Homo sapiens: one gene and its partner. The protein of the gene in region 1 purifies or fractionates together with the protein of each later gene. This does not show direct contact. Each region holds a gene or a part of one and is shown on either strand. Other genes may lie near its edges. The genes, in order: OR4D6 and LRRC8E.

The links.
Region 2: the proteins of OR4D6 (region 1) and LRRC8E purify together in Homo sapiens (affinity purification with mass spectrometry; one large-scale study listed by BioGRID and IntAct). This does not show direct contact.

The regions. Positions count from the first base shown.
Region 1 is NC_000011.10:59,455,634-59,458,633, forward strand, and holds OR4D6 (olfactory receptor 4D6), read left to right. Parts: upstream 1-1,327; coding exon 1,328-2,272; downstream 2,273-3,000. UniProt on the Homo sapiens protein: Odorant receptor.
Region 2 is NC_000019.10:7,891,189-7,895,009, forward strand, and holds part of LRRC8E (volume-regulated anion channel subunit LRRC8E), read left to right. Parts: intron 1-2,384; exon of another isoform or gene 2,385-2,671; intron 2,672-3,331; exon of another isoform or gene 3,332-3,821. UniProt on the Homo sapiens protein: Non-essential component of the volume-regulated anion channel (VRAC, also named VSOAC channel), an anion channel required to maintain a constant cell volume in response to extracellular or intracellular osmotic changes.

The DNA of each region.
Region 1 (3,000 bases):
CTAGTCACTTCTAAAGTAAGAAACATTAGACTAATTTATCTCTGAAGTCCTGTGACGCTCTAATGATCAGTTTTTCTGTGATACTAAAACATGCCCTGAACAATGACTGTGGCTCTATACAAAGAGCCCTGTGTGTCAATAGCAAGGTCCAGGCTTCCCAGAGTGCCAAAGAGGAGTACTTATGAGGGCCTGACCCTTCTCTTTTTATAAGGGATGAGATAAGGATTAGGTAGTCAAACTACTTAATAAACTGTTTAAGCCTTATATACACACTAGAATTCCGGTAAGCCAAAGTAAGCCCCAGACTCTCTGATTTCTCAGAGTTGTACAGTGGAAAAACCTCTGGAGACTGTTATGTTAAAGAAAAATTATTCACCAGACAATTATTAAAGACAGGAAGATAGATTTCATTTAAAACTCTTGCAATAGAAGAAAAAGATTGAGCTCAACTCGAAATATAGTGAAAACAAGTGAAGATTTATAAGCAATGAGCAGAGTGAGGGAGGTCAGTGGATTGAAAATTACTAAGAAGTGATATCAAAGGTAGGGTGGTTCTTGCTAAACTGGCATAAAAGAATTCTTGCTAAAGACTGGCCAAGGACTTAGATATTGAGGGTGAGGGATGAGGTTAAAAATAATAAATATATAAAAGGGTAAGGGGTGAGGAATTTGATTAGATTTCAAGGGTGTGGAATTCTCATTAAACTGACTTGGCAAGATTCCTGTTAAAATTGGGCTCAGCAAAGACAGACACAGAAGGTCAAGGTTGAGTCATAGTCAAGAAAAGGGCTCAGAGGAGCCTAACCAACATTTGGTCAAGGAGGGAATCTTTCTCAAGTCAGGAGATTGATTTGTATTTGAATCCTCAATTTACAATTCACTAATTTTGCGACTATGCAGATGTAAGTCATTAACTGCTGTAAAGCTTCAGTTTCCCCGTATATAAAATGGAGATAACCATACTAAAGACTCTTCAGAAACTTCATGAGAATTGAAATCAGTATGAGCTATTGCAGGTGAAAGCCCTTGGTAAAGCATAGGCAAATGGCCATAGTCCATCCATCTCTCTCTGGTCAGAGTGAGGATACAGACATGTGATGGTTTTTTCCTGTTAACCCAAGGTATTTACAATAAGAAAGAAGAACCATATGAAAGAAGAATTTCCAGACCACAAAGAGAAGACTGGCCCAGTTTTTCTGTGTAGTCATGATGACCTGGATGCTTGAGAGCAGTATGTGATCAATGATTTTGCCACCTCATGTCACCATAATCCAAGTTCTAACATATCTTCATCAAAGGTAGGACCTGGAAGAGAGTCATCCCCATCATGGACCAGATCAACCACACTAATGTGAAGGAGTTTTTCTTCCTGGAACTTACACGTTCCCGAGAGCTGGAGTTTTTCTTGTTTGTGGTCTTCTTTGCTGTGTATGTAGCAACAGTCCTGGGAAATGCACTCATTGTGGTCACTATTACCTGTGAGTCCCGCCTACACACTCCTATGTACTTTCTCCTGCGGAACAAATCAGTCCTGGACATCGTTTTTTCATCTATCACCGTCCCCAAGTTCCTGGTGGATCTTTTATCAGACAGGAAAACCATCTCCTACAATGACTGCATGGCACAGATCTTTTTCTTCCACTTTGCTGGTGGGGCAGATATTTTTTTCCTCTCTGTGATGGCCTATGACAGATACCTTGCAATCGCCAAGCCCCTGCACTATGTGACCATGATGAGGAAAGAGGTGTGGGTGGCCTTGGTGGTGGCTTCTTGGGTGAGTGGTGGTTTGCATTCAATCATCCAGGTAATTCTGATGCTTCCATTCCCCTTCTGTGGCCCCAACACACTGGATGCCTTCTACTGTTATGTGCTCCAGGTGGTAAAACTGGCCTGCACTGACACCTTTGCTTTGGAGCTTTTCATGATCTCTAACAACGGACTGGTGACCCTGCTCTGGTTCCTCCTGCTCCTGGGCTCCTACACTGTCATTCTGGTGATGCTGAGATCCCACTCTGGGGAGGGGCGGAACAAGGCCCTCTCCACGTGCACGTCCCACATGCTGGTGGTGACTCTTCACTTCGTGCCTTGTGTTTACATCTACTGCCGGCCCTTCATGACGCTGCCCATGGACACAACCATATCCATTAATAACACGGTCATTACCCCCATGCTGAACCCCATCATCTATTCCCTGAGAAATCAAGAGATGAAGTCAGCCATGCAGAGGCTGCAGAGGAGACTTGGGCCTTCCGAGAGCAGAAAATGGGGGTGAGCAGTCAGATGGAGAGTGGAAGTCTGTCTGACTTAGTTTTCTCAAAATGCTAGCCTAAGAGTAACAGGTCGCTAGCTCTTCTTCCACTACTTCATTGTATATCTTCATAGCCGCTCGATTCTATTAGCGGGAGTATACAAACAAAAAGAAGAAATGAGATTAAACAATGTGAGCTATCGAGCTTGTGGACTCAGGAGAAGAAGAGGGTATAAGGTTGAAATCAATACCCTAAATGCTTTTTGGTGTTACCTGTGACTCATACCAACACTTATCTCACTTTTAGCACCAGTAATATGGAAATATCATTACTTGCTCACAAGTTTGTCAAAAGAATGAAATGTGATCAATGCTGTGAGGATGATAGTTGTGAAGGTTAGTACTGCTCCTGGCATTAATCAGGTATTCAATCAACATTCCCTATTACCTACCCCTCTCTTCCTAAATGTGCATATACACAGAATATAGACACATTTATTTCATATATGCTTTCTCTGGTGACTCTGCTATATCCAGTCAATTATTGAAATCACTTGATTTTATTTTATTTTATTTTATTTTATTTTATTTTATTTTTTTGGGACGGAGTCTTGCTCTGTTGCCCAGGCTGGAGTGCAGTGGCGCGATCTTGGCTCACTGCAAACTCCACCTCCTGGGTTCACGCCATTCTCCTGCCTCAGCCTCCTGAGTAGCTGGGACTACAGGCGCCCGCCATGACGCCCGGCTAATTT
Region 2 (3,821 bases), on another chromosome or scaffold:
AAAATGAGGCATTCAGTGTCTGGTGGAGAAAGCTGAGCGTATACGTCCCATCGTTTTATTTTCCCTGGCTCTGCCCCAATTCTTCGAGCCCCTGTTCCTGGACCTTCCCACCAGCCCTGCTCAGACAAAGTGGGGGCCTATTTTATGTCTGTGGAAATTTAATGGCAGGTTTGTGAGGATCAAGTTTGAGTCATGGAGACAGATAATGATAGCCCCTGTGGCTGCCCCCCGGTCCCCTGAGTGTTGCTGCCTTCTTGTCTGCGATTGTGCACCTGGGATGGCTATTGGTGGAGCTTACACCAGGGTGGCAAGGACAGGAAGTTGGTCCCTGCTCGGGTGTGTGTGTGTGTGTGTGTGTTTGTGTGTGTGTGTGTGTGTTGTGTGATTTCTTCTGCAGCCTCCAGAGTCAGGAGTTTTTGTTTTGTTTTGTTTTTTTGAGACGGAGTCTCGCTCTGTCGCCCAGGCTGGAGTGCAGTGGCGAGATCTTGGCTCACTGCAGCTTCTGTCTCCCGAGTTTAAGCAATTCTCCTGCCTCACTCTCCTGAGTAGCTGGGATTACAGGCATCCACCACCATGCCTGGCTAATTGTTTTTGTATTTTTAGTAGAGACGAGGTTTCACCATGTTGGCCAGGCTGGTCTGGAACTCCTGACCTCAAATTATCCGCCTACCTTGGCCTCCCAAAGTGCTGGGATTACAGGCGAGAGCCACCGCGCCCGGCCCCAGTCAGTAGTGTTTTGCTTGCTGTGTTTGAGATAGGGTCTTGCCCAGGCTGGTTCATGGCTCACTGCAGCCTCTAACTCCTGGGTTCAAGCAATCCTCCCACCTCAGTCTTCCAAGTAGCTGGGACTACAGGCATGCACCACCACACCTGGCAAGATTTTAGATTTTTTTTTTTTTTTTGAGACGGAGTCTCGCTCTGTCGCCCAGGCTGGAGTACAGTTGTGCAATCTTGGCTCACTGCAGGCTCTGCCTCCCAGGTTCACGCCATTCTCCTGCCTCAGCCTCCCAAGTAGCTGGGACTACAGGCGTCTGCCACTATGCCCGGCTAATTTTTTGTATTTTTAGTAGAGACGGGGTTTCGCCGCATTAGCCAGGATGGTCTCAATCTCCTGACCTCGTGATCCACCCACCTCGGCCTCCCAAAGTGCTGGGATTACAGGCGTGAGCCACCGCACCCGGCCCAAATTTTTAGATTTTTTTGTAGAAATGGGGTCTGACTATGTTGTCCTGGCTGCTCAAACTCCTGGGCTCAAGCAATCCTCCTGCCTCAGCCTCCCAAAGTGCTGGAATTACAGGCCTGAGCCACTGCACCCAGCCTGGGGTCAGCATTCTTAGGTAAAGCAACTGAGCAGTGTCCCTGCAGGATCCTTGGAGGACTCAATGGATGGCCGGAACCAAAACAGGACGTGAGGGTCCCTGGTGCTGGGTCCCTCCGAAGCTCAGTGTGTGTACTTGGACTTTATACCCTCGTGCACAAATATGCATGACCCAAAATGACCCCAAGCGTCCATTTTGGTGGGTGCAATGTACATATTCTTCCCCTGGGGACAGTTGAGCTATCCTGGTATGTTTCTACCAGATTACATACTGGTGACCCAGGCAGACTGGGATATTTGTAGTCGGGTTTCTTTTCTCTTCTCTTCTCTTTTTTAGAGACAGGGTCTTGCTCTGTCGCCCAGGCTGGAATGCAGTAGTGCAATCTTGGCTGACTGCAACCTCCGCCTCCCGGGTTCAAGGGGTTTTCGTGCCTCAGCCTCCCGAGTAACCGGGACTACAGGCACCCTCCACCATGACTGGCTGTTTTGTATTTTTATTTTTATTTTGTTTTAGTTTTGAGACAGAGTCTTGCACTATTGTCTGGGCTAGAGTGCAGTGGCGCAATCTCAGCTCACTGCAACCTCTGCCTCCCAGGTTCAAGCGATCCTCCTGCCTCAGCCTCCCTAGTAGCTGGGATTACAGGCACCTGCCACCACGCCCAGCTAATTTTTTGTATTTTTAGTAGAGACGGGGTTTCATCACGTTGGCCAGGCTGGTCCCTAACTCCTGACCTTGTGATTTGCCTGCCTCGGCCTCCCAAAGTGCTGGGATTACAGGCGTGAGCCACCGCACCTGGCTAATTTTTGTATTTTTAATAGAGACGGAGTTTCACCATGTTGGCCAGGCTGGTCTCGAACTCCTAACCTCAAGTGATCTGCCCACCTCGGCCTCCCAAAGTATACTTGGCTTTTTGCTTAGGGCAGGGAGTGTGAATGAGCATGAGGGCCAGGCCATGGTGCGAAGGACCCTGTGCTCTGGGCACCCCCTTGCATGGATCTGGGTCTGGGTGAGTCACTGCCTGAGTCAGGGAACCCATGACTTTTTTTTTTTTTTTTCCCGAGACAGAGTCTCGCTCCGTCTCCCAGGCTAGATTGCAGTGGCACGATCTCAGCTCACCACAACCTCCGCTTCCCGGGTTCAAGCGATTCTCCTGCCTAGCTGGGACTACAGGTTCATGCCACCATGCCCGGCTAATTTTTGTATTTTTAGAAGAGACGGGGTTTCACCATGCTGGCCAGGCTGGTTTCGAACTCCTGACCTTGTGATCCGCCTGCCTTGGCCTCCCAAAGTGCTGGGATTACAGACGTGAGCCACTGCGCCTGGCCCAACCTATGACATTTTACACTTGCATGGTGAGTCCCCGTGTGGGCAGGCTGTACCCACACCCTTGCCTGCCTATCTGATTCCCCAGACTGAAGTGGGGGCCTCTGAGGGGGTAAAAGGATGTGGTCTTTCGGGACTGCTTGGCCTTTAGCTTGGTGGGTGGAGCCTGTATCCTACCTTGTTTTAACCCAGGAGTCACCCCAAAATATGGGGGGGACACAAACTGAAAAGGGAGGCTCAGACATGTCAGAACCATTGGCTGAGTCGTGGGTCAGGGGACCAGGGTTTCCCTAGATTCTTCCTGGGGAGATGGATGGGGAGCCAGAGATAACTCCCTGATGGGCAGATGCCCTCCTTCTTGGCCCAACTCCTGTCCCGTTACAGATTATCTTTGTCTTTTGTTTTGTTTGTTTGAGATGGAGTCTCACTCTGTCACCCAGGCTGGAGTGCAGTGGCACGGTCTCACTTCACTGCCACCTCTGCCTCCCCGGATCAAGACCCTCCCACCTCAGCCTCCAGAGTAGCTAGGATTACAGGTGTGTGTCACCACACCTGGTTAATTTTTTGTGTATTTTTAGTAGACTCTGGGTTTCACCATGTTGGCCTCACTGGTCTCGAACTCCTAACCTCAAGTGATCCACCTGCCTCAGCTTCCCATAGTGCTGGGATTACAGGCATGAGCCACCGCGCCCAGCCCCAGTTACAGATTATCTATCTGGACAAGGACAGGAGGCTCCCAGGAGTGGGGGAACTTGGATGTTGGCAGAAGTGGGCTGGTCTAAGGTTCCCCACCTTCCTTGTTCCACCTCCAGCCTCTGGGGAAGTAGGTACCTGCCTGGGAGAGTGACATCTCAGCTCATGCCCCACGCCCCAGTGTGATTTGTGGCTGGCCTGTCTGTATCTGTAATAGTGATAGCTTGGTCTAAAAGGAGACCCTGGGAACAGACAGAGTGGGCCGGCCAGGAGCCTGACAGCACAGCCCTAGCCTGGTCGCAGATGTCACCTGACAACTTTCCATTTGCAAATCCTCCTTCCTCCTCGGACATCCGGACACCCCATTGCCCCCTCTCAGAGCCCAGGTCTCTGGTTTCTGCCTGTGATTCTGGGCTGTAGCCCCTTTAGAAACTCAGGTGTCCTGGTCACCTCCTACCCCCAGGGCTGACTAGCCTTCAGCTTGGC